Linked DNA regions of Homo sapiens. The protein of the gene in region 7 interacts with the protein of the main gene of each other region in a pairwise test. Each region holds a gene or a part of one and is shown on either strand. Other genes may lie near its edges. The genes, in order: PRKCG, BACE2, LMO3, MAPK9, CCDC57, CCDC102B and TCP10L.

Region 1 (3,500 bases), on a different chromosome or scaffold from region 7:
TTCGTGTCATTTGAATTGGCTTAAATTTTTTTTTTTTATTTTTATTTTTTGAGACGGAGTCGCGCTCTGTTGCCCAAGCTGGAGTGCAGTGGCGCAGTCTCAGCTCAATGCAACTTCCGTTTCCCAGGTTCAAGCAATTCTTCTACCTCAGCCTCCTGAGTAGCTGGGACTACAGGCGCATGCCACCACACCCCGCTAATTTTTTTTGTATTTTTAGTAGAGATGGGGTTTCACCATGTTGGCCAGGCTGGTCTCGAACTCCTGACCTTGTGATCCACCCGCCTCGGCCTCCCAAAGTGTTGGGATTACAGGCGTGAGCCACCGCGCCCGGCAGAACTGACTTAAATTTAAACAGCCACATGTAGTTAGTGGCCACCAAATGGGACAGCACACATCTGGACACTTCCAGGCTTGTTTTGAAGTCAGGTGGGTTCAGAGTTTCGCCCAGGGTTTGACACAAGATCGGAGACAGTTTTATGATGTACAGATGGAGAGAGAGGCAGAGAGAGAGAGATCCACAGAAGTCCATGAGGCGTTTTACCACCCTCTCAGCTGAAAATAACAGAAGTCTACATAGAAGATGTGACTTCATAGAACATATATTGAGCACCACTGTCTACCAGCACGTGTATGTGATTGATGACCCCCCTCGTCCACTCACCTCCGCCACCAACACCAGATAAGTCTGATGCATCCAGTGCTCATTGGGTACACTCATCAAGATTTTTTTTTTTGTTTTTTGCCTGTAATCCCAGCTACTCGGGAGGCTGAGGCAGAATTGCTTGAACCTGAGCGGCAGAGGTTGCAGTGAGCCAAGATCACGCCACTGCACTCCAGCCTGGGTGACAGAGCAAGACTTTGTCTTGGAAAAAAAAAAAAAGATTTTTTTTTGTTTTTGTTGTTTTGTTTGATTTTGGGGTATTTTTTAGATGGAGTTTCACTCTGTCACCCAGGCTGGAGTGCACTGGTGCAATCTTGGTTCACTGCAACCTCTACCTCCCAGGTTCAAGCGATTCTCATGCCTCAGCCTCCCGAGTAGCTGGGACTAGAACAGGCATGAGCCACCATGGCCGGCTAATTTTTATATTTTTAGTAGACAGGGTTTCATCATGCTGGCCAAGCTGGTCTTGCTCCTGACCTCACGTGATCCACCCACCTCGGCCTCCCAAAGTGCTGGGATTACAGGCGTGAGCCACCGCACCCAGCCGATTTTTGGGGTTTTTTGAGACAGGGTCCCACTCTGTCACCTAGACTGGAGTACAGTGATGGGATCATAGCTCACTGCAGCCTTGAATTCTCCAGGCTCAAGTGCTCCTCCTGCCCCAGCTTCTCAAGTAGCTGGGACTATAGGCACAAGCCACAACACCTAGCTAATTAAAAAAAAATGTTTTTGTAGAGATGGAGTCTCACTCACTATATTGCCCAGGCTGGTCTTCAACTCCTGGTCTCACTCGATTCTCCTGCCTCAGCCTCCCAAAATGATGGGATTACAGGCGTGAGCCACTGCACCTGGCCTCAAGTATTTTGTATACAGTATAGGTTGGATCCACACAACAGCTTATTTGGTTATTTTTCCCTGTCTATCTGGTTTGAATCCCAGCTCCACCACTTTTTGGTTCTGTGACATTTCCTGAGTTAATTTACCTCTCTGCACTTGTTGAATTCCTTGTTTGTAAAGTGGAGATGATAATTATGCTCACTATGGATTGTTTTGAAGATTTAGTGAGTCAGACATTTGGGATGGTTTCTGACACATAGCAAGAGCCAAAATATTATTTTTTATTCTTGTTAAAATTATTATTATGACCAATGAGGAAACGAGTGAATAGTGAGAAGGAGATCTTTCCTCTGCATCACTCGGGGGTTTTTTTGTTTTTGTTTTTTTTTGCTGTTGAGACAGGGTCTCACTCTGTTGCCCAGGCTGGAGTGCAATAGTGCTATCACTGCTCACTGCAGTCTTGACCTCCGGGGCTCAAGTGATTCACTGCTGGCAGTTGATCTTCTTAAAAGTAACATGCAGGCCAGGCACAGTGGCTCACGCCTGTAATCCCAACACTTTGGGAGACCGAGGCGGGTGGATCACCTGAGGTTGGGAGTTCGAGACCAGCCTGACCAACATGGAGAAGCCACGTGTCTACTAAGAATACAAAATTAGCTGGGCGTGGTGGCACACGCCTGTAATCCCAGCTACTCAGGAGGCTGAGGCAGGAGAATCACTTGAACCCAGGAGGCGGAGGTTGCAGTGAGCCAAGATTGCGCCATTGCACTCCAGCCTGGGCAGCAAGAACAAAACTCTGTCTCAAAAAAAAAAAAAAAAAAAAAAAAAAAAAAAAAAAAAAGGTAACATGCCTTGACCAGGCATGGTGGCTCATGCCTGTAATCCCAGCTCTTTGGGAGGCTGAGGCAAGCGGATCACGAGGTCAGGAGATCCAAACCATCCTGGCTAACGCGGTGAAACCCCGTCTCTACTAAAAATACAAAAAATTAGCCAGGCACGGTGGCACGCGCCTGTAGTCCCAGCTACTCGGGAGGCTGAGGCAGGAGTATCGCTTGAACCCCGGAGGCAGAGGTTGCAGTGAGCCGAGATCACACCACTGCACTCTAGCCTGGGCGACAGAGTGAGACTCCATCTCAAAAAAAAAAAAAAAAAAAAAGTAACATGGATCAAGATTTGGCAAGAATGATTTCATTTAGTCCCCAGGGAGGGCACATGCCCCCACTTTTCAAGCGGTAAATCTGAGGCTTTGAAAAGGGGCAGGCGTGGTGAGGCCACCTAGCTGGGTAGGGGATAGAGGCAAGATTTGAACTCTGATGTATGTAACCACAGCCTCCGTGCTGTCTCCTTTTTAACAGCGACGTTCACTTTTGAGAATAAGAACAGCAGCCTCTGTCTGTGGATGGTTTGTGTGTCAGGCAGCCTGCTGAGAACCTTCACACACAGCATCTTATTTAGTGCGGCAGGAACCCTTTGAGTTAGGGTCAGCGGAGATATTTAGAAGCCCAGCACATTGAAAAGGATCCTGGAAACTGCCAACACCCTCCTCTACCCAAATATATATTCAAACTAGAAACCCCACTAACATAGATGAAAATCCAAGAATGGCCTAAATGTTCACCCTGTGATAATCCTTTTAATGGATTCTTAGAATCAAGTTATTTAACAAGCAGATATTGTCCCGGGGGTAGTGGGTGGCAGGGGAGAAGGAGAAGCTTCACTGATGACCTGCATTCTTGCTTAATGGACTCTGGAAATTTAGCATTGCTTCAAAATATAGATTATTTATTTCCACTTGACAGAGGAGGATGCTGAGGCTCAAAACTGGGAATGAACTTGCCCCAAATCACACAGCTGAGAAGCGGCCTAGCTCTTACTTACATTCAGGGCTATGTAGGGACTTCAATAAAATCCCTAACAATAACCACAGTAATAGTATTGGGAGCATCTAACGTGGTAGGCACAGCTATGTTTTGTACACCAATTATTTTATTTAGGCCTCCTG
Region 2 (3,500 bases), 8.6 Mb from region 7:
ACTCTTGCCCCAACCCCACACTGGGTACAGCAGGAACGGGGTGGTGGTCCTCCTTGCTGGTGAGTGAGGTCCCTCTCCAGGTGACCTGAGGCTCCTATGACTGACTGTGAGCCTCTGCCTGTCCTTGAGTCCCTTGCTGTGTGTCATGGATCCCTCCTCTGGGTCACCCTGTTTGCCCAGCCTTGGTGAGACACTGGGGTTCATTGTATGTTAAGGTAACAGATACTACCCGGACAATAGGGCATACCTGTGAGGCAGGTGGGCAGCCTGGCACCCCTTCTGTAATTTCCCTGGGTATAAACATGTTTCTGGTGGAACCTGAGGAAGAGAGTGTCACCTCTTCTGGGTGACTTTCCTGGCCTGGCTCCCCTTCATCCTCTCTTGGCCTAGATGTACTAATTTGATATTTGACTATTGCTACTCAATACAAAAAAAAGTGGTCACTTTTTTGCTCTTAGAATTCTCAAAAGAAGAGAGAATACTCTGGGAGTGCTGACATTAACCACATAAAGGAAATGAAATGAGTGTGTTTGTTTTGTGCTAATGCTTGCTGTCCAGCCCAGGCCCCGGGTGGGATGTTTTCAGATTTTTATTATATGGCAATCATATACCTGCACCTAGAAATATACAACCTCGGCGCTGCCATTGCAGGAAGACAAAGAGACTGTCTAGAGAGTAACGTGGCGATGCCCTGGGCAGCTCCATCATTCCAGGGTACCATAAAGGGAAGTGGGAATGCACACTCCATCTGTTTCACGCTAGGCTGAAAGTGGCAGGGGGAGAATTTACACCTGGCCTGCAAAAGGCAGCCTTGTGTTCCCACTTCAGAGCCCCAACTTCTCCAAAGCCAGTGCTTGGGAAATGGCCTTGTTGGCAGCAGGCAGGAGACTGGTGCAGTGTGCCAGCTGTGCAAACCCCCACCAGACTGGTGCAGTGTGCCAGCTGTGCAAACCCCCACCAGCAGCACCCCCACCAGCAGCCAAAGAAAACAATTTCTAAAGCAGCCCCCAGGATTTCATGCCACGGGGGTGGTGAGGGGTAGGAGGAGGTGGAAAGCATTGAATCAGAAAGTCTTCCAGGTACCAGCAATGCCAGGGTTAATATGGTCTGGCTTGCTTTTCAGGTGAGCACCTGTAGCTGGCAGGAAAGTGGCTTCTTGGTGGAGGTGGGCATGAATTCCAGAAGCCTTGGAGAGACATCCAGAGCCCTTCCCACTACATCGTGCTGCCTCCTGGGGAAATTCCTAAGCTTTTTTTGAATCAGAAAAGCCACTGACAAGCAGACAGAATTGTGTGGCTTGCGCAGTGATTGGAGAGCTAGGTGCTTTGGGTACTAGTCCCAGAGCTGCTACTTGTCGAATGTTGGGTATTGGAGAGAAGTCATTTGAGCTGTCTGAGCCTCTGTTTCCTCATCTGTAAATCAGGGAATTTGAACAAGTGACCTCAGATTCCTTCTAGAAGCTCTAACAGTCAATGATATCATCTATTTCATTTGAGAGAATCTCCATAGCTCTAATTTTTTGCCCCCAGACCAATCTGCTTCAGCTTTGTGTGGGTGCAACACCTGGGGTCCTGTTAAAATGCAGAATCGGATTCAGTGACCGAGAGCAGAGCTGAGGGTGGCTGCTGCCAGCTCACAGGTCACACTTGGAGTCGTTGCTTCTTTCCCCAAACCAGCTGCCGATGGTTCCTGGAAAGAGCAGGAATACCTTGCAGAAGGGCCTAGAAATAGAGATTCCCATATGCAGTCCAGACTTATTGGGTGAGCCTGTCTGCACTAGGACCTGAGAATCTGCATTTTATTATATCCCTTGAGTCCCCTTTAAGCAGCCACGCTGGCCCCAGCCATTGGACTCTATTTGGAGGCCACTGCAGAGGCCAGATGCCCCTCTGCTCGGCGGTTTCCTGTGCAGAAAGGCTGTGTTCTTTCTTCTTCCTAAATACTCTTCCTAGGTTAAGTGTTTCCTTCTCTTTGCCCATCTAGAAAATCTCCACCTCAAGCAGGTCGTGTTCCAAAAACTCCTCGTGTTGGGCAAGTGGAAAACACGCAGTTTTTTCTAGGGGTCTCATTCTGAGGCGGTGCTGCTGAAAATCTTGGTGCTGAACGTGTGTTTTTGAGATTTCCAGTCTATCACAGGGCCACAAGGTGTAAATATCAAGAAAAATGAATTACTAGAAAGGCAAAGTGAAAAAGACATACAAAATACAAGTGTCATTCTTTTTATTCTTAGTTTGGACAGATAGTCCATTCTTCTACACTGGTCCCACGGTTTCTGAAGCTTCCTGTAATGATCAGTGGTTACCTTGTTGCCCAAGTAACTGCAAATCCCTCCTCTACAAAGTGTGCTTGCTCCAAGGCAGTGCAAACTAGAAGTTGTTACAAATGGTTCCAGTAACAAATTTGTTTGGCGGCCTTTTCCCATGAATGAGACAGTGGTTATTTTTGCTAAAGCAGAAAGGAAATGTGATACTATTGGGCTGTGTTTTGCCCTCTGGAGTAATCCTGCTTGGGGAAAATGGAGGCTTGTTCCAGAATGCAGAAATCCCTGTTAAATTAGGCAGTCTTGGGCTGGAGGACGTGTGCCTGCCTCCCCAGTGCCTCACAACTCACATCTCTAAAGGCCACTCAGGTGGGACACCATCAAGACATTGAAAATCGACAGAAGGAAGGCAGGAAGGGGAGAGGATCGAACCTGTCAAAATAGATATTCAGAAAATCTGTGCTCTAAAATAAGGCAGCCCTTCCCTCACAGCACACTTATTCCTAATTTCAACAGGACTCCTAGTCTTGCCCCACAGCGTCACAGCCTACAGCAAATTAGAAACTGGGGTGGGGGGCGGATATTATTCCACCAGTAATACCCTTGGGACGGGGCACACAAGATGTTTGCCCTCCTACCTCTCTGTCACCTTCCCAAGAAAGGGTCAAGATGAAACAGTGTGCGTTTATGGTATTGCGAGAGTTAAGTGAGCTGCGGTGTATTAGAACCTTAGCCTCGCGCAGCGTCAGCCGTGTGGTAAGTGTTCCATAAATCTTCGTTTAGAAAAAGTGGCAAATTCCAGGCTGCTAGTAAACAAAGGAGGGAAGACAGACAAAACGGAACAGCAACAACAGAAAACCCAAGAACTAGATGCCCAACAATCTGGGTCTGTATCTTGAAGGAATGTGCATCCTGTCCTCTGACTGCAAACCCAGGCCTTCTGTGGCCCCACGATGCTGCCTCCTAGCCCTCCTAAGGTGGGAATGGAGCTTTACCCCTTGGTGGCAAACAGACCTGGCTCCATGGATCTCAACCTGGGGTGATTGTGTCCCCACCCCAGGGGACATCTGGCATCCTCTGGGGACATTTTGAGTTCTCACAACTTAGAGGGTGCTACTGGCGTCCTGTGGGTGGAGACTGGAAGTGCTGCTCGGCATTCTTTGCCGTACAGGGCAGCCCCCACAACAAAGAACGATCTGGTCCAAAATGGCAACCATGCCAAGATTGAGAAATCCTGGTT
Region 3 (3,500 bases), on a different chromosome or scaffold from region 7:
GACAGTATATTATCCTTCAATTTCTGGTCTAGCTATATATAGTTTACAGCCTCATTTACTTTAATGTGCTACTTGAATAACATAATCATAGCTATAACTATGGTATAGAGCCATAAGGTGCATGCATGCGCCTCTATGTTTTTTGACTATTTAAATGGCTTCTTCATAAATGTATTTTTAATAATAATGGCAAACCTTTTAGTAACTAAATGTCAAAAAGTAGTGAATCATTCATTAGTTGGTTCCTTTCCCAACTAAAATGTTTAATATATAACATTAAGAGCAAAGTTATATTGCTTTTATATTTTCTATATACTCTAACCCAGAGATTTTTGCTATGAATTCACCCCCATTGACTTCTGTTTATGTGCAGTTACGTAAGCTTCCTAATGTATTTGTCTTTTCCTTTTCTTCTCAAACAAGATGTGATTTTCATCAAGGAAGGTCAACGGAGAATATATTGCAGAAGAATATTTATGCATACACCTAGGATAAAATCCACTTGTGTACATCATAAAGCATTGTGTATTGTAGCTTTACAGAGTATATTAACATCATCTCTCTTCACGATCTCAGATTTCTCTGTAAGAGTTTGTAAAAAAAAAAAAATGTTTCTTATTCTAGGCTCTTTGGTGTAACGGGAAACTGCGCTGCCTGTAGTAAGCTCATCCCTGCCTTTGAGATGGTGATGCGTGCCAAGGACAATGTTTACCACCTGGACTGCTTTGCATGTCAGCTTTGTAATCAGAGGTAAGCAGGTCTCTTTTTGGTCTCTAAGAAATGGTTAACCTCTCTGTGCTGGCTATTTATTTAATAGGTGGAAATTATATTCATACATTTAAAGCAATCAATCTCAGCGTTTTTCTGTTCTGTAAACTTTAATCCCATGCCAGAGACAAGCTACTAAGGAGAAGAAAGGTCTTAAGACTTACTTCTACCTGAAAGAAAAGCATCATATAAGAGCAAGTAACAGAAAATGGAAACACTACCGTAAACTCTGACTTCTTTTACTCATTCCTTCTTTTATTATTTTCCTGTCTTTTTAAAAGTAGTTTTAAATATCTACTTTTTTATACTACTTATGTGAGTAAATAAATTGGCAATGAAGCAAATATACAGGAATTTGTTGCAGGTATTTTATATTCTTATTATTTTTTATATTTTAAATTCCTTATCCCTCATGTTTTTGTTTTTGCTTTTTTAAATACAAGGTCTGGTTCTGTCACCCAGCCTAGAGCGCAGTGGCACTAACATGGCTCATGCAGCCTCAACTTCTGTGCTCAAGCAATCCTCCTGCCTCAGCCTCCCGAGTAGCTGGGAGTACAGGTGTGCACTCCCATGCCTGGCTAATTTTTTTTTTTTTTCATTTTTTATAGAGATGATGGAGTTTCACTATGTTACCCAGGCTGGTCTCAAACTCCTGGCCTCAAGCAATCCTCCCACCTCCACCTCCCAAAGTGCAGGGATTATAGGCATGAGCCACCACCCCCACCCAATCTAGCTGTTTACCTTAAATTTTAACCCTGTCCTATATGTACTTTTGCAGTTACTTCAAATATCTTTGAGAATCAGTCCAGATATAGCTAATAATTAAACAATTATTATCATTGGAGAGGAGCATTTGAAAAAGTGTTGAACAGGGAACCTGGAAACCTAAATTCTAATATGGGCTCTGCCACTAATAAGCTGTGCGATCTTAAACCAAACAAACACCTTCCCTCTCTGGACCTCAGGTTTTTCATTTGTAACATATGAAGCTGGATTAGTTCATCTCAGAGAATTCTTTCAGCTGAAAAGTATTATCACTTAATTCCATTTTTTCTTATTGAAAGTTATATTTTTTATTTCTGTGAAAACTATATACTACTGGCACCTGTTTTATATGATAAATGGAGAGGATTTTAGAACATTAAAATGTACGTATTAAAAATACAACATTTCAAAAATTAGAACACTTGATAGATTTTAATGAAAATGAATTCACTGACTTTCTGTGAGAACACCTGGCAGAGTATATAATCAATAAATATTAGTTGCATCAAGTTCTCAGTTATTGTAATTTACTCTGAAAGGTACTATTTGATGCAGAATCTTCTTATGAGACCCTGTAGAATAGTAGAAAGAATGTGACATTTCTAGTGAGAACGGGATTCAAATTTCAGCACCACCATATATTAGCTGATATATTAGCTGTGTGATCTTGAGTATGTTACTTAATCTCTCTGAATTTGATTCCCACACCCATAAAATAGAAACACTAACACCTCTCTTGCAGAGTTTGAAACTTAAATGAAATAATTAATTTATATTAAATGTCAGGAACACAACAGGTTCTCAAAAGTTAGTTATCTTTATAATTTACCAAATAATATTCCATTAACTTGACTTTCCCACAAGGCATGTATCACAATAGTGTTTCTTGCTAAATGTAGATATTCAGATTGTTGCCTAATGTACCTTATAATGTAATAGTTACCCAGACAGTCATGTAAGATGTTATCTTACAATGTCTTGACTCTTCCCAGCAAGTACTGAGAATCAAAGTAAGTTCATTCAGTCTAGGGTAACATTTAGACGAAAATAAATTGGCAAATGCACATGTTTTTGGTAGGGATAAGGATATACAAACACAAACATTCCCACATCCATACAGACACCTTTATGTGCATGTATATATGTATTTTATACATTTTAAAGGTGTCTTAGTAGTAAATTTAGAATACTTTTGTTGACTTGTCATGTTGATCAACTAATAGCAGCCAGTAACCATGCAGTTCCCATTATGGAATCATAAAGTCATTGCTTTTCTACTTATAAAAGATTACATATTCATAGTAGGAAATTTAGAAAATAGAAAATGATAAAAACAAGACATTGTCCCATGTCTCATTCTTCTAAAAGAAAACATTTTAATATTTTGATATATAGCCAGCCATACATGTTCCTATGTCTATAGGACAAATGACATTGTATAAATATTACACTCACATTTAAGCAAATTAAAGTTACAAGGGAGAATCCTAATGTTTGATATTTGGACTTTTTCACTCAATTTATATTTTGTGCCTTTTTTACCTGCCATTAAAAATTCTTTTAAGATATTTTAAGCTTTTCTGAGTTCAGCTTTATGGACAGAGCTTCACATATGTCTTCTATCATCAGATATATAAGTTGTATCTTCAAAAGTTTTTGTGCTGTAAATATTATCAGTATTATCAATATAAAAATGGACCTTATGAGACCCTGTAGAATAGTAGAAAGAATGTGACATTTATAGTGAGAAGAGATTCAGATTTCAGCACCACCATATAGTAGCTGATATATTAACTGTGTGATCTTGAGTATGTTACTTAATCTCTCTGAATTTGATTCCCACACCTACAAAATAGAAACACTAATACCTCTCTTGCAGAGTCTGAAACTTCAATAAAATAATTTATGTTAAATGTCAGGAACACAACTGGTTCTCAAAAGTTAGTTATTTTTATAATTTACCAAAT
Region 4 (3,500 bases), on a different chromosome or scaffold from region 7:
ATGCCGCCTGCAACCCCCCTTGTGGCCCATCAGTTGGGGTGTCTTACAGGCAGGTGCTAGGCAGTGCTACTGAACCTGCAACTTCCTGGGTAAAGTATCCTCATGCCTTACGCCATGTCAGTGGCTTGGCAGTTTGACATTGCAGGTGCACTACTCTTGTGAAAAGAATGGGTGTGGGTTGTTTACAAGTCACAGTTTCTCAAGTGAGTTTGCAGGCCGAAGTCCCCAGGCAAAAGTCAAATTCCTAAGGCCTGAGGAAGGGGCTAGGGTGGAGGATCAGCAGGAAGAAAATCCCTTAGTTATGAGGGAAAAGGTTGCAGAAGTTGTGTTAAGGCTTTGCAAGTCAGGTGGAATATGATGCATGTCTTCATTCTGCAGACACTTCCCAAGTGTCTGCTCGCGCCAGGCGTGCTTCTGAGTGCTGAGAGCTCACACAGAGTCAGCACTGGGGAGGGAAGAGAGGTGGCAACCAGAACATGAGCAGGTGAGTTTTTGTGCCACGTACAGATGGAGACAGCAGCACCAGTGCTGGCGTGTCTTTGTGGCGAAGGTGAGAAGATTGGAGGTGGATGATCATGGAATTGCTCTTCCAAGGAGAGAAAGAGCCATGGGAAGATTCCAGGATCAGACGATTCTAGACCTGTGCTGTCCAGTATGGCAGCCACTAACCACAGGAGGCTGTGGAGCACTCAGGATGTGGCCGTGCTGCAGTTGTAAAATACATACTGGACTTCAAAGGCTCAGTACTAAAAAGAGAATGTAAAATATCTCAGTATTTTTCTTATGTTGATTACATTTTGAAATGATAATATTATGGATATATTGGGTTAAAAAAATATACTGTATGATTAAAATTAATTTCACCTATTTCTGCATGCTGTTGAGCATGGCTAGTAGAAAATGTAAATTATACACATCGTTCGCATTATATGACATTGTCTGTGGGACAGCACTGCCCTGGACTGACAGACAGCATGAGGACCTTAGCAAGAGAGAGTCAGAGTATTGGGGAACTCAAGTCCAGGCGTGGAGAGCAGGAGGGGGCCGTGTGTGCTGGACTGACAGCATGAGGACCTTAGCAAGAGAGAGTCAGAGTATTGGGGAACTCAAGTCCAGGCGTGGAGAGCGGGAGGGGGGCATGTGTGCTGGACGTGTAGATGCATGGATGGAGGGTAGATAGGACAGCCTGAGGGCCTGCGAGACCACAGAAAGGGCAAATGGGGGCCATGAAGGTTTCCACTGGGGGTAAGGGGCACCATCTGACGGCTTTAGGCTGATTTGTTTTAGTTTCAATTTGAGAGTAAGATTTTCCAAAGTTGTTCCCAAATCTCAGAGTTCAGTTCACTCCCTACACTCTCACACTGGCTTCACGACCCTCACGGATGTGAAGTAGTTTATTTAGCATGCTTCATTCATTTTACTAATTTAAGCCATTTCTTTCCTAGGATTTGAAGCCTAGCAACATTGTTGTGAAATCAGACTGCACCCTGAAGATCCTTGACTTTGGCCTGGCCCGGACAGCGTGCACTAACTTCATGATGACCCCTTACGTGGTGACACGGTACTACCGGGCGCCCGAAGTCATCCTGGGTATGGGCTACAAAGAGAACGGTGAGTATAGCCGGGGCTGGAAGAGGCTGGGATGTTTAGAAATTGCTCTAGCGGTGGTCTCGAGTTTTTTCTCTTTCCTTTGAACCATATGATATATACTGTGGGGACTGTTACACCCAGAATATAGCATGATCCAGAGATAAGAAATAATTAATTGTGTTTTTCCATTGGTTAAAATCATTCTCTTTTAAAAATTCACTTTTAAAATTGTTATTTTTGAACTTTTTAATCAGAGTTAAGCTGTCTATAGCCAAGTGTGCAAATCCTGAGTGTGCAGCTCAGCTGAGGTGAGCACACCCACAGCAGCAGCAGCTCTGGCCTCCCCATGGCCCCTCCTCGCAGCCCACGAGGCTGGCCAATCTCCTGATCTCCAGTACCATGGATCAGCTTTATTTGTTGGTCTGCATATTGTTTTTTTGAATTTGATGTAAATAGAATAACACATGTTTTCATGTAAAATTGGTGTCTTTTTACATCAAAACTTAGCTTATTCTAGCAATATCAGAGCTCTTTGAAACTTGGCTTTTAGCAAATTTGTTGAAAATAACGAAATCACGCTTACTTATTTTTAAAAAGACTGAAAGTTTGCCCGGGTCATCTGAAATGAGTTTTGCTACAGGTTCATCTTGCTGCGTTGTAGCTTGTGTTCCCACCCTGAGGGGCACAGCTTCATGTGCTTCCTGTGGAGGGGAGAGAAAACTTGATCCCCTGTTCACTTCTCCCCTCGGCCCGCCAGCAGGGCACTTAGAGGCCTCTGCTGTCTGTCTGAGGCCCCACAGATGAGGGTGGGCACCGTGGAAGTCTGGGCCCCTCTAGCAGGGCCTCACCTGCAGTCCTGCAAGCCAGCCAGCCTGTGCCGCCAGTGAGTGCTGCTGCCTTTCTGACGGGGCAGTCTAGAAAATGATCGCTCAGGAGGTGTGGTATCAACAACGCACAGAGGCTCCCGCCGGCAAGCTAGTGACGTGTACCGGGTTTGTCCTGGGAGGGGGTTTGAAGAAAAAAGATGGGGGACTCTAGCTGGTTTTTAATCCCCTGGTGTTTGGTAGTGGACATCTGGTCTGTCGGGTGCATCATGGCAGAAATGGTCCTCCATAAAGTCCTGTTCCCGGGAAGAGACTGTATCCTTCACAGGGGACCCGGTACTTGGCCATGGAGGCTGGGGTGGGCGTGTGGCCCTGAAAAGCTTTGTGTTCACAGGCACTTCTTGTTTCTGGTTTTTTGTTTGTTTGTTTGTTTGTTTTAAGCTATAAAGTATTGGACTCTTTGGCACTAAAACCCCAGATTGCTACAAACCGAAGGCTAAAATAGAGGTCAGCAATCATTCATATTGTGTAAAATGTCACCCTTAGCTAGCAATTTATTTTTCCATATTTGTGTGTTTAGTGCACTGTTAGAATTCCTTTTCCTCACTTTTGTTTTGTTCATGGCACTTCATAATTTTATCATTTCATTTTATTTTCAGTTGATATCTGGTCAGTGGGTTGCATCATGGGAGAGCTGGTGAAAGGTTGTGTGATATTCCAAGGCACTGACCGTATCCTTCCCCGCGACCTTGGCCCCGCCATGCTTTCTTAATGCCTCAGGCAGCATGACCACCTGCTTACACGAGCGCTCACGAGGACAAAGTCGTAAAATCCACTCCAGACTGTGTTCTAAGGGGGGCTTTACTGTATTTGTTAATTAGTGTCACAAGCCAAGTGGTTCAATTTCATTCTTTATTTTTAACTTGACTACCTGTGATGACTTTGAGACTTAGAGTTCAGTTAAACCGATTATATTAGCTCTTAATTTTGCCAAAAATAGCTGGACACATAGAAGAAATTATTTACTCTTTGATAAGTATATTCTGATATTTAAATGAAAATACTGTATTATTTAGTTTATTCCGT
Region 5 (3,500 bases), on a different chromosome or scaffold from region 7:
AGGATCGGACTACCCAGAACCACACCGGATGTGTGCTGCCCAAGTTTCCCCTAGTAACCAAAGCTGCCACGTTAAAACGTCACGTTTCCTTCTTTCCAGAGACAAGGATACTATCTGAACATGATAAAAAATCCATGTTCCCAACGTCTGAGATGGCTCTCCCTGAACGAGCCCTGCTGAGTCTGAGAAATTCGGCGTGGACAGCCTGGGAAGTCAGCCATAGTCACGGCCCAGCCAGAAACTCTGACAAGAATGGCTGCGCCCTGCCAACTACAACCAGCCTCAAATCGCCACTGTCCCCAGATGCTGCCAAGAGCCCCCCACCTGCTGGGCAGGACCACCCACAGCTGGATCCTCCTCAAACTCCTTCTTTGGAAGTGACTTTGGAGCCACTTGAGGAAGCCTCACTACTTAGAAAAGTCACCACTGGTCTCTTACTGACCACGGATTTTAGACGCTGGCTTCATGCCTAAAGAACTCCGGCTGTTCTCAAACTCATCCATAATCGACAAAGCTCTTTGGTTTCTGAGAATTCCAAGAGAAAGTCCTCTGCAGGCCATTTCAGAAGCAGCCTCAGGGACCTGTGAACAACGGGAGTGAGCTCAGCACTTCCGGGGACAACTGGACAGTCCACAGGAGGGCCCATCATGACGTGAGCGTGGCCTCCTTCTCTGCTGACCTGACTGTGGCAAATTAGTGACACACTGGCCTATCCTACTATGACCAAGCTCCCAACATCCGACAGGACCAGAGAGGGGACCCTGTCACACCTGCACAAAGCCCTTCATCACTGCTGCACCTGCACAGACGCAGCCCCTTATGACACCCCCATAGACACAGCTTCTAGTAACACTTACACCTACCTGCATAGACAGAGCCATTTATTACACCTGCACCTGCAGAGACGCAGCCCCTCATCACACCTGCACCTTCACAGAAGAAGCCCCTCAGGACACCTGCAGAGACGCAGCCCCTCATGACTCCTGCACCTGCAGAGACGCAGCCCCTCGTGACTCCTGCAGAGACGCAGCCCCTCATGACTCCTGCACCTGCAGAGACGCAGCCCCTCGTGACTCCTGCACCTGCAGAGACGCAGCCCCTCGTGACTCCTGCACCTGCAGAGACGCAGCCCCTCGTGACTCCTGCAGAGACTCAGCCCCTCGTGACTCCTGCAGACGCAGCCCCTCATGACTCCTGCAGAGATGCAGCCCCTCGTGACTCCTGCAGAGACGCAGCCCCTCGTGACTCCTGCACCTGCAGACACACAGCCCCTCATGACTCCTGCACCTGCAGAGACACAGCCCCTCGTGACTCCTGCAGACGCAGCCCCTCGTGACTCCTGCAGAGACGCAGCCCCTCATGACACCTGCAGAGACGCAGCCCCTCGTGACACCTGCACCTGCAGAGACGCAGCCCCTCATGACACCTGCACCTGCACAGGCACAGCCCCTCATCACACGTAAACCTGCAGAGATGCAGCCCCTTGTCACATATGCACACAGTGGCAGCATCTCTGACTGTGGTCTCTAGATATAAATCTATAGGATGTCTTTCAACAAAACCCCAGCACAGCTGAGTCTCTTGGAGGTGTAGGCTGAGTTTCCAGAACATTGAGGAGAAATTCGGTGACTGCCACTTTTCAGTTGAAGCATCTGTTTTTAAACTTATCATAATTGAATTCCAAATTCTTTTCCATAGTAAATAATTCATGTTTTTAAAATTATACCTTTCTAAAAATAAATTTAAAAGTTTCATCATTTCTGAGGTGTGCTGGTTAATTCCATGTGTCAAATGACTGGGCTACGGGCTGCCCGGATAGCTGGTAAAAAATTATTTCTGGGAGTGTCTGCAAGGGTGTTTCCAGAAGAGACTAGCCCTCCTCCTGTGGATGGGCGTCATTCAATCCACTGAGGGCCTGAATAGAACGAAATGCAAGGAAGGGTGAACTCGCTCTCTCTGCTTGAGCTGAGACACTCGCCTTCTCCTGCCCTTGGACATTGGGCTCCTGCATCTTGGGCCTTCAGAGCTGGACCAGGACTCACATCAGTGGCTCCCTGGTGCTCAGGCCTTTGCCCCTGGGCTGAATTACACCACCAGCTTCCCAGGTTTTCCAGCTTGCAGATGACAAACTGTGGGACTTCATGGCCTCCGTAACTGCACGAGTGAATTCCTACAATTTATCTCCTATATATCTACACGTCTCCTATTGCCTGTTTCCCTGGAGAACCCTGACTAATCCATGAGGAAAGAAAACAAGGAAACACTGTGGAGGTGGCTGCATGTAGACATCCCATCCTGTTTCCCTGCAGACCATCCCAGAGTGGCATCTGCCCCAAAGACCCCATTTTACTCCCAAGGAGAATGCAGGCAATGAACCAAATGGTTGTCTTTTCCTCAGCCCTATATGATTTCAGTTTCACAGTGGGCAGGCAGGGAAAGCACCCAGGAAGGGGCCGACCCAGAGGCTCTACCTGTCTCTGCAGAGCAAGCTCACCGTCGAGCTCCTCAAGTTTTCTCTCCAGTGTCCATTTTAGATTTTCATACTGTTCCCGGTGGTGGTCAATCTCACCATTCTTGTCACTATGGTAATAAAACAGCATTAAGAAAAGCCATACCAAATATTCAGCAAAGGTAATACATTTTCAAGGTGCACTTGACATGTGAAAGTTGGTGCTTTGCTTTTATGAAGGGGTGGCTTCAGCAGGACCCACGGGGTAGCAGAACTTCCAGCCCCACCTGGACCAGCATGCTACACCCATCTATAAAAGAGGAAATTAAATAGGGCCCAGAGTCTCACAACATAAAACCCAAAATGTCCAGGATACAATTAAAAAAAAAACCTGACAACCAAAAACCGGAAAGATCTGACCAGGCCCAGTGGCTCACGCCTGTAATCCCAGCACTTTGGGAGGCCGAGGTGGGCGGATCACAAGGTCAGGAGATCGAGAGCATCCTGGCTAACACGGTGAAACCCCGTCTCTACAAAAAAATACAAAAAAAATTAGCCGGGCGTGGTGGCGGGCGCCTGTAGTCCCAGCTACTCGGGAGGCTGAGGCAGGAGAATGGCGTGAACCCGGGAGGTGGAGCTTGCAGTGAGCTGAGATCGTGCCACTGCACTCCAGCCTGGGCGACAGAGCGAGACTCCATCTCAAAAAAAAAAAAAAAAAGAAAAAGGAAAAAAAAGAAAGATCTGAGCTTGAAGGAGAAAAGATAATAGGTAGATGCCAACACCAAGATGACACAGACGCTGGAATTCTTCAACAAGGAAGCTACAGCAGTCATTATAAAAGCGCTTCAAGTAATCTAGTAAAGCAAATGGAAAAACAAATCTCAGCAAAGAAAAAGCTATAGCAGGCTGGGTGTGGTGGCTCACGCCTGTAATTCCAGCGCTTTGGGAGGCCAAGGCAGGTGGATCACCCGGGGTCAGGAGTCCAAGACCAGCCTGGCCAACATGGTGAAACCCCATCTCCACTAAAAATACAAAAATTAGCCGGGCATGG
Region 6 (4,184 bases), on a different chromosome or scaffold from region 7:
GGAAAACCAGGAGAGTGTTATGCCAAGACAAGAGATGTCTTCATGTGGGCAGGGTTGTGAACAGTATGAAAGGCTGTGTAGATGTCAACTAGAAGGATTGAGGTGAGTTAGAAAAATTAAAAATAAATAGAATATTTATGTACATGCATGTGTGTGTGTGTGTGTGTGTGTGTGTATTGTCACTTTGATGAATTAAAATCAGGTGGATGCAAGACTAAATAAAATTCTTGGCTGGAGAACTTTCAATCATTTGGCCATGACAGAAAGAATGGTACCTGAAAGTGAAAATGACTGAATTAAAAGTAAAGTTCATTGGCATACATGAAATTGACTAGAGAATGTATGGTATTTAACATCACGTGGGGAAAATCCGGACAGGAGGGAACGTTCAAAGATAGAGGAGAGAGAATCATGATTAAGTTTAGCTCGATGGGTCAATTGGCTTTATACAGGAAGATGGCCACCTTTTCCATTGCATCAGAAAGTAAGTGGGAAAAGAATGTTAAGTAGAGATAGATGATAACACCGTAATAAGCCTACAAATTAGGGAAGGGTGAAAAATAAAATAATTTGAAGACATTTATTGCCTAAATTTCAAATGTTGTTTTTTTGCTACTTAAAAGGAGCAAGGCTATCCTGTTACCTTTTGACTTTTCTTTTTTACTTTGGACATTTTTTTGCTGCTAGTTTCAACCAGAGAAGCTCTTTTTTATGTGATCTCTCGCCTCCCCCCTCAACCCCCATCAGAACACTTCCTGACAGCTGAGTCATGTCAATGGAAAGCTACTTCATATTCTTTTTCCCCAGGGAAAGGGGCCAGAGAGCTTTCACTGGGCACCCCGGGGACTACAGCTCACAATTCCTGCCAATGTGACCACAATCAAGGGTTTTGACATGCAGTTATTGTTTCATGATTTGTATACTCAAATCTTTTATTAAATATGATTTCTTTTGCTTTTGTGCAATCTAATGCAAATCAGATTGGATGAATATTTTATATTGTTCCTGTAATGTGCAGTATAATTTCCTTTTAAATATTTTTCAGATAGGTACTTCCTGGGCTTTTTTTTTTTTTTGCTTTGCTATTTTAGTTTTTCTATTATTATTACAAGTTATACTGTTGTAATTAAACATTAAGAACACTTGTGGATCAAGGCGTGGGTGTCTTTTTCTTTTTCATCCACAGTACAGGTTTCAAATGGTTGTATGGAAAGCTTTGGATAACCATACTTAGGGAACATTAAAAATGGTTTTATTTTGGTTGGCTCAATGGTGATCCAAAGAGGGGGTTGTGGTAGTGGTTTCAATAAAACTTCACAACCAATGGGAATCTTTTTTGAGTTTGTGTGGAGTGCCCTTAATGCTGGAAATAATCCTGTTGGCTAGGACTCCAGAACTGTACGGATGAGAAAAGGATGCAGGAAATTCTGTTGTTTACACATGTGGCTGCAACTGAGACACTGGAGCAGCCCAGCAAGCCCAGAGGGTAAGAGTGTTTAATAACCTTGTGGTTTTCTATTTAATTTTTATATTTTCCTGCTGAGGTACAGCATGTGTTGTTCTCAGAGCAAAGACAGTTGCTTACAAGATGCAGAGCAAAACTACTGTAGAGCTGGGAAGCAGAAGGATTTGGAGTTTCTTTTTAAAGTGATTCCTTCCTTTCCCCTTTCATTTTTCCACTGTGGGTGTTATTATCCTGACAATTTGTCATACATTTCCTGTCTTTAAAAAATAACTGTATACTAAGCAAAACTCAGGTAAGAATTTCGACTCTACATTTAGACAGTAATAGTATATGTTGATATTAAAATTTTGTTTCATTGTTCCAAATGAATGTGAATTAGTCATTGTGTTTGAAGTAATCTATATTCTTACAGTAAAAAAGTAAAATTGTTATGGAAATCCTCCTATCTATGCCTCATGTACCTTGAATTCTTTTCAATTGTTGAGTCTTCATGCTAAATTCTTGTATTCGTTAATGGAAAGTATATTTCAAACTTAGCATGAATATTGATTTCTTTACATGCTACCTGTATAGTGTGGAGGAGACAGGGATACAGAATAAAATAATAAAATCCTGTGCATAATAAAAAGTAATGCTTAGCTATATAGAAGTAAATTATAAAACTGAAAAAAAATCTCTGGAAACCTTTGGGAAGCATTTGCTTACGTTTTCTGCAAAGATAAATTATCAATTGAATGTCAAGTGAGTACATTTATTAAATATAAATATAAGAAAGATTCGTCAAAAAATATAATTAGAAATATGTCAGTAACATAGGACCAAAATATATAAAATATTTATTGATATTCTTATTTACATCAATACCAGTTTTTCTGTTTTCTAAAATAATGTGAATGTGTTTTTGCTAATAATTTTCATGGGAAATGGTGTTATTACAACTTTTGAGTAAATATTCTCTTGTTAGTAAAATATGTTATTGCCAATAAATATTTTTATATATCCAGTAAATATTCTTGAATTCTATTTCATATTTTAATGAAAGCAATAAATTAGAAAGAAGATTTATAAGTTAGCGATACAATATCTGTGTAGGTTTGTGTGACCTATTTGAATATATTCAGAAAAATGCTTTATGTGAATTGCTTTATTTTCCAAAATATCCTATGTTCTTATGAAATCATAGATAATTTCATTGTCTCTCTTTTGCATCCTTCATATGTTATCATTGGATTCAATAATTGCTTGATCACTGGGACATTGTTTCTGGGCCTCACTATGGGTTTGGCTTCAAGGTAATTTATGAATGTTTCATCTAATTATTACAGTTACAAAACAATGGCTGTAATTCTTAAAATACAAGAAATGCTCTCAGGTCGTCATATCTCTTATGCTGATATTACAAGACCAATTGAATTCTGCCATAATGCCAAAATATTCAGAAATTCCCTTTTTAGCAGGTATGTGAGTCCTAAAGAGATGCCAGAGGCTTTAAAGAAAAGTTCAACTTCTTGAACTTAGTCTTGAAAAACTAGTGGAACTTGGATAGGTGCTGAAAGCAAGAGGAATACTCTACTTTGAAGAAGTAATTGGCAAAAAGGGTTTTGAACACAAATTAGCATAGAGCATAAAAGAATGGTGAGTAATTTATCTGATTGGAGCAGAAAAAATATACCTTTGTGAGTATCAGACGTTGTACTCAATACATAGAACAGGAAAAATTGATAGAGCATCTTAACATTGCACACAGAAAAATGTGGCCTTTACATATCATACAAAGGGGACAATTGCAAGTTTCTGAAAAGAGGTGGAGTATCTGTGCCTCTTTTCATCATCTTTACCATAATCATCATCATCATCATTTTGCCAACACATAATAGCATTTTCTGCTTGCAAGGTGATTTACATACATATCCACAATTTTGATAGCTTTGCAAGAAAATGAACATTATTTTACACATTATTTTCATTTTGCACTTGAAGGAACCTGCTGTTCAGAAACGTTCAATGATTTGCTTAAAGCCACAGATAAAGAAAGTGAGGGAACCAGAATTTCAAATAATGTCTTTCTGGCTCCAGAGCTATTTCCACGATGTTGTGCTGGTATTCTAGGAATGTGAATCTGGCAGAAGTCGAGCAGAATGGTTTGAAGTGGACACTGGGATTTTAGGGTGCAGGGAGGAGGTCGTGAGACAACAGCCCAAAGATCCATTCCGATATTCTATAAATCCAGACGAATTACTGTTCTATCAGTTGGGCCACACTTTTCCTTTGGGAATTGAGAGAAGAGACTGACGCTGCAAATAAGGGGTAATTTTTACATTTAAATTAGCGGCCCTCAGATTCAACACTTATGCTTTTCTCTCTCTTACATTTTCTTAAATCTACTTAGAGAAGGTATCTTTTGCATTCTCAAAGAAAATGTCATCACTGATTTGCACTGAATATTACCTATTCACAAATGAGATGTGTGAGGTGGCCAGGAATAACACTGGGGATGTACTGACTTTCCTCTGTTTCTTTTTGATACATGGTATCAACGAACACTCAGCGACCAAATACTCTTAAAACTATGGAATGACCAAGTTATTATCAAATAAAGGCATTGTATAAGTTTCATTTCAATAGGTGAAAAGCATAAATAAAATTCACATTGTAATAGATAGTGTGAAATACAGTACATTCACAGTAAAAAAGAATAGAACTTATTTATTAACATGTT
Region 7 (3,500 bases):
CCAGAAATAGTGTTGGTCTTACATCAGAGAGGGCTTGAGTATTTTGCAGATAAATGTGCCCATTGTGACATCTGAGAGGTTTTTCTGGTGTTCTCTTCCCAATAACAGCCATTACAGCAGCAGATCATCAGACTCCACCAAGAGCTTGGGAGACAGAAGTCTCTGTGGGCTGATGTTCATGGAAAACTCCGGAGTCATATAGATGCTTTGAGGGAGCAGAACATGGAGCTCCGAGAAAAGCTGAGAGCTCTGCAGCTGCAGCGGTGGAAAGCCAGGAAGAAATCTGCAGCGTCCCCACACGCGGGGCAAGAATCGCACACTCTGGTACCAAAAGCGCATTTATGTTTTTGTACCGTTTGCGTTATGTAAAAATAGCGTCCCCATAAAGATGTGGGCTTTATTGCTGAATGACGCGGTATCACTCACGCTCCGGGTGGTGGGAGGGGTTGCTATCTTTCCATCAACTCCATTTCCCGTAAGTAATGATTAATAAGAACTGGATACATCAGGCCTCTCACCTGGCACTCCAGCAGACAGAAGCATTGCCGCCCCCAGGCCGTGTGTCTCAAGTCCAGAATTCTAAGACATCTCATGATGTCTCAGGACAACAGCAGCAAACCCTTACTGTGGACTTTACATGGGCTAGGTACGGAGCTTTACGGTCTTACTCTCTATGACGACCCTATGAAATGGATCCTATTACTAACCCCATCGTGGCCACGGGCTGGAGAACGTAGAGCTGGGATTTGAACCCAGGGTGACTCCAGAGCCAGCTCAGTAGCCTGGTGTCCTTCTGTTCATCCTCTAGGACAGCTGTGTAGAATGCAATAGAGACCTGTTGAAACGGGAAAAGTTCCCTTGTCCCCCTCGCAGGGTGTGCGATGGGGGTGTGGCTCGCTTCTTTGGTTCCCCACTGCTCAAACCTCTAGGGGAGTGTACAGACCGGCAGGCTATGGGGCTCTGACCCCACGGCAGTGTCTGGGGGTGAATGTTTCCAGCTGAAGCCCCAGAGGGTGTGTGTTACAGTGCGGGAGCTCTTTCAGTTTACCCCTCCGTAGGCAGCTTGTGTTTATCAGCTCAATTAGACCCTCTGCCTTATCACAAGGACAGAGGGCTTTCTGTATCCTGGGTTCTTGCCTTGGTGTACCTGAAAAATCAGATCACACATGGGCTTGGAGGATGGGTGCAAGGTTTTTTATTGAGTGGTGATACCTGTCAGCAGATGGGGGAGCCAGAAGGGAGATGGAGTGGGAAGGCAGTTTTCCCCTTGGGAGTTGGGCTGCCCAGTGACCGGGCTCTCCCCTGACCACCCCAAGCAAACTCCGTGTCATTCCGCCAGTCGATGGCCTGCTGGCGTCTGCTGTGTCTGCTGGTGTGCTCTTCTGCCGGTGTGTTCTTCTCGACATCCAGCCGCTTGGTCTCTGCCCGCTAGGGTCTTGGGGTTTTTATAGGCATAGGATGGGAGTGTGGCAGGCCACGGTGGTCTTGGGAAATGCAACATTTGGGCACAAAAGCAGAAATGCGTAGGTCCATGGGCACAGGCCCAGGGGTCGAGCCCTAGCCAGGGACCCCGTTCTTCTCCACCCAGGACTTTCCTGCCCCCATCCTGTATCACTAACCTGCTCTATCCCGAACGAAGAACCAGCATTCTCATGCTGAAGTAGTGGGTGCCTCCCAGCACCAGCCTGCCTCTACAGAACACTGAGCTTTCACGTTTGATCACACCGCTCAAAGAACCAGCCTAAGAGAGTGTGAATGTGGCCAGTGTTATCACTGCCTTGTCTGGGTTCTGTTTCCTGCATATGGATCTAAATAACTTGAATCATTAAAATTATACATACAGGTAACAACACATGAAACCACATGAACACCCTCCAAACGTAAGTGGGGATATTTCTTAGTGGATTAAGAAAAGTACTAACATTTCCTAGCTGCATTTATTGTGTGAACTTTTAAATCGGTACTTCCAGGACTTAGAATATTTCCGATACAGCACAGTGATTACAACACACACACACACACACACACACACACACACACACACACAGGCACCCACCGAATACATTCCAGAGGAGACTGCTCTGTGGTTTGTTCTCCAAGCACAGCAAAAACAGCCACAGCTGGGCGCGGTGGCTCACACCTGTAATCCCAGCACTTTGGGAGGCCGAGGCAGGTGGATCGTGAGGTCAGGAGATTGAGACCATCCTGGCTAACACGGTGAAACCCCGTCTCTACTAAAAATACAAAAACATTAGCCAGGTGTGGTGGCGGGTGCCTATAGTCCCAGCTACTCGGGAGGCTGAGGCTGGAGAATGGCCTGAATCAGGGAGGTGGAGCTTGCAGTGAGCCGAGATCGCGCCACTGCACTCCAGCCTGGGGGACAGAGCAAGACTCCGTCTGAAAAAAACAAAACAAACAAACAAAAAAAACTGCCACAAGTTCCTCTACAAGAAATTACGGGAAATCTTGGAAGTTATTCCCACTCTTCGGGAGCTCTGCGAGAGCTTTGTTTCCATGGAGATGGCTTCTGCTGCCTCAGAAAGAAAGTGAGTTTAGCCTCTCAGCACAGCAAAGCGCCGAGTCCTTCTGCGGAAGGAAGAGCAGAAGCTGGGCAGGCTGTTCCTCTGTCAGAGGAAGAGTGGGGGAAATTGCCACAAATACTGGCCGGGATTGTCCACCTTCTGTGGGGAGAACCCAAGAAGACTCACAGGGATTTTTTTCCCTACATATATTGTATGCCAGTTCCTAAAAAATAGTATCTACTGCCCCATTTGGGTCATTGTATAACAATTACCCTAAGAGTCAATGAAGTCTTATTCAGTCTTCACATGCCCTGCAGTTTTGATCATTCTCTTATTTTGAGATTAGAGCTTGGTGAATTTCCAAATATTTTTCCATTCTGTGCATTGCACTGGTCACCGTGGGGCTATTTATAAGAACAGGATGTACGCTCACAAGAGCATACCTGATTTGAAGAAACAGGATGGGATATGTGAATCCCACACTTTAAATATGCGAAGGTGTATCTGTGTGTAGTCGCCGTTTTAGGGACTGAATATCTAAAAGGCTGAGACTCGAGCACCCACAGAACGCGGGCATGGCTGTGTGGGTGAGCCACTCTGGATCTGATATTAAGGGTTCGTTCATAGCAACCCTCTCCCCTTCTCATTCCCTTCTCCTCCTCAGAGGGCAGAACGGTGAATAATTTAGCATTCCAGACCTAATATACCTCATCCCACCTGAAGGATCACCCTGTTCCAGGTCAGTCTGCTGATAACAGGGAAAGTTGGGAATTTGCATTTTGGATCTTAGACAAGTTGTAGAGACAACACTAGAAGTAGTATCACATTTTCTTCCTCCGTTAACACACTCCCGGTTGAAGACACAGGAGCCTAAAGGAAGATATGTTGGGGATTGTTTGTTCTGTAGCCTTTGGGATCCTGTGATCATTTTGAAACAAGGAACCACAATAAGAAACACAAAGCAAACATCGGCTCCAC

Evidence for each region.
Region 1: the proteins of TCP10L (region 7) and PRKCG interact in binary tests that used the Homo sapiens proteins (3 or more experiments, as listed by UniProt).
Region 2: the proteins of TCP10L (region 7) and BACE2 interact in binary tests that used the Homo sapiens proteins (3 or more experiments, as listed by UniProt).
Region 3: the proteins of TCP10L (region 7) and LMO3 interact in binary tests that used the Homo sapiens proteins (3 or more experiments, as listed by UniProt).
Region 4: the proteins of TCP10L (region 7) and MAPK9 interact in binary tests that used the Homo sapiens proteins (3 or more experiments, as listed by UniProt).
Region 5: the proteins of TCP10L (region 7) and CCDC57 interact in binary tests that used the Homo sapiens proteins (3 or more experiments, as listed by UniProt).
Region 6: the proteins of TCP10L (region 7) and CCDC102B interact in binary tests that used the Homo sapiens proteins (3 or more experiments, as listed by UniProt).

Annotation. Positions count from the first base shown.
Region 1 is NC_000019.10:53,885,197-53,888,696, forward strand, and holds part of PRKCG (protein kinase C gamma type), read left to right. Parts: intron 1-3,500. UniProt on the Homo sapiens protein: Calcium-activated, phospholipid- and diacylglycerol (DAG)-dependent serine/threonine-protein kinase that plays diverse roles in neuronal cells and eye tissues, such as regulation of the neuronal receptors GRIA4/GLUR4 and GRIN1/NMDAR1, modulation of receptors and neuronal functions related to sensitivity to opiates, pain and alcohol, mediation of synaptic function and cell survival after ischemia, and inhibition of gap junction activity after oxidative stress.
Region 2 is NC_000021.9:41,174,660-41,178,159, forward strand, and holds part of BACE2 (beta-secretase 2 isoform A preproprotein), read left to right. Parts: intron 1-571; exon of another isoform or gene 572-3,500. UniProt on the Homo sapiens protein: Responsible for the proteolytic processing of the amyloid precursor protein (APP).
Region 3 is NC_000012.12:16,557,663-16,561,162, reverse strand, and holds part of LMO3 (LIM domain only protein 3), read left to right. Parts: intron 1-624; coding exon 625-750; intron 751-3,500.
Region 4 is NC_000005.10:180,247,084-180,250,583, reverse strand, and holds part of MAPK9 (mitogen-activated protein kinase 9), read left to right. Parts: intron 1-1,445; coding exon 1,446-1,611; intron 1,612-2,657; coding exon of another isoform or gene 2,658-2,729; intron 2,730-2,855; coding exon of another isoform or gene 2,856-2,884; exon of another isoform or gene 2,885-2,921; intron 2,922-3,073; coding exon 3,074-3,145; coding exon of another isoform or gene 3,146-3,186; exon of another isoform or gene 3,187-3,500. UniProt on the Homo sapiens protein: Serine/threonine-protein kinase involved in various processes such as cell proliferation, differentiation, migration, transformation and programmed cell death.
Region 5 is NC_000017.11:82,195,843-82,199,342, forward strand, and holds part of CCDC57 (coiled-coil domain-containing protein 57), read right to left. Parts: intron 2,583-3,500; exon of another isoform or gene 2,581-2,582; coding exon 2,472-2,580; intron 1,255-2,471; exon of another isoform or gene 1-1,254. UniProt on the Homo sapiens protein: Pleiotropic regulator of centriole duplication, mitosis, and ciliogenesis. Critical interface between centrosome and microtubule-mediated cellular processes. Centriole duplication protein required for recruitment of CEP63, CEP152, and PLK4 to the centrosome.
Region 6 is NC_000018.10:68,796,696-68,800,879, forward strand, and holds the start of CCDC102B (coiled-coil domain-containing protein 102B), read left to right. Parts: upstream 1-1,384; 5' UTR 1,385-1,486; intron 1,487-1,575; exon of another isoform or gene 1,576-1,757; intron 1,758-4,184. UniProt on the Homo sapiens protein: During interphase, forms fibers at the proximal ends of centrioles to maintain centrosome cohesion. During mitosis, dissociates from the centrosome following phosphorylation to allow centrosome separation. Contributes to CROCC/rootletin filament formation.
Region 7 is NC_000021.9:32,579,024-32,582,523, reverse strand, and holds part of TCP10L (T-complex protein 10A homolog 1), read left to right. Parts: intron 1-108; coding exon 109-324; intron 325-3,500. Other genes in the region: CFAP298-TCP10L (uncharacterized protein LOC110091775), read left to right, coding at 109-324. UniProt on the Homo sapiens protein: May be involved in transcriptional regulation. Has in vitro transcription inhibition activity. Acts as a tumor suppressor in hepatocellular carcinoma (HCC) cells.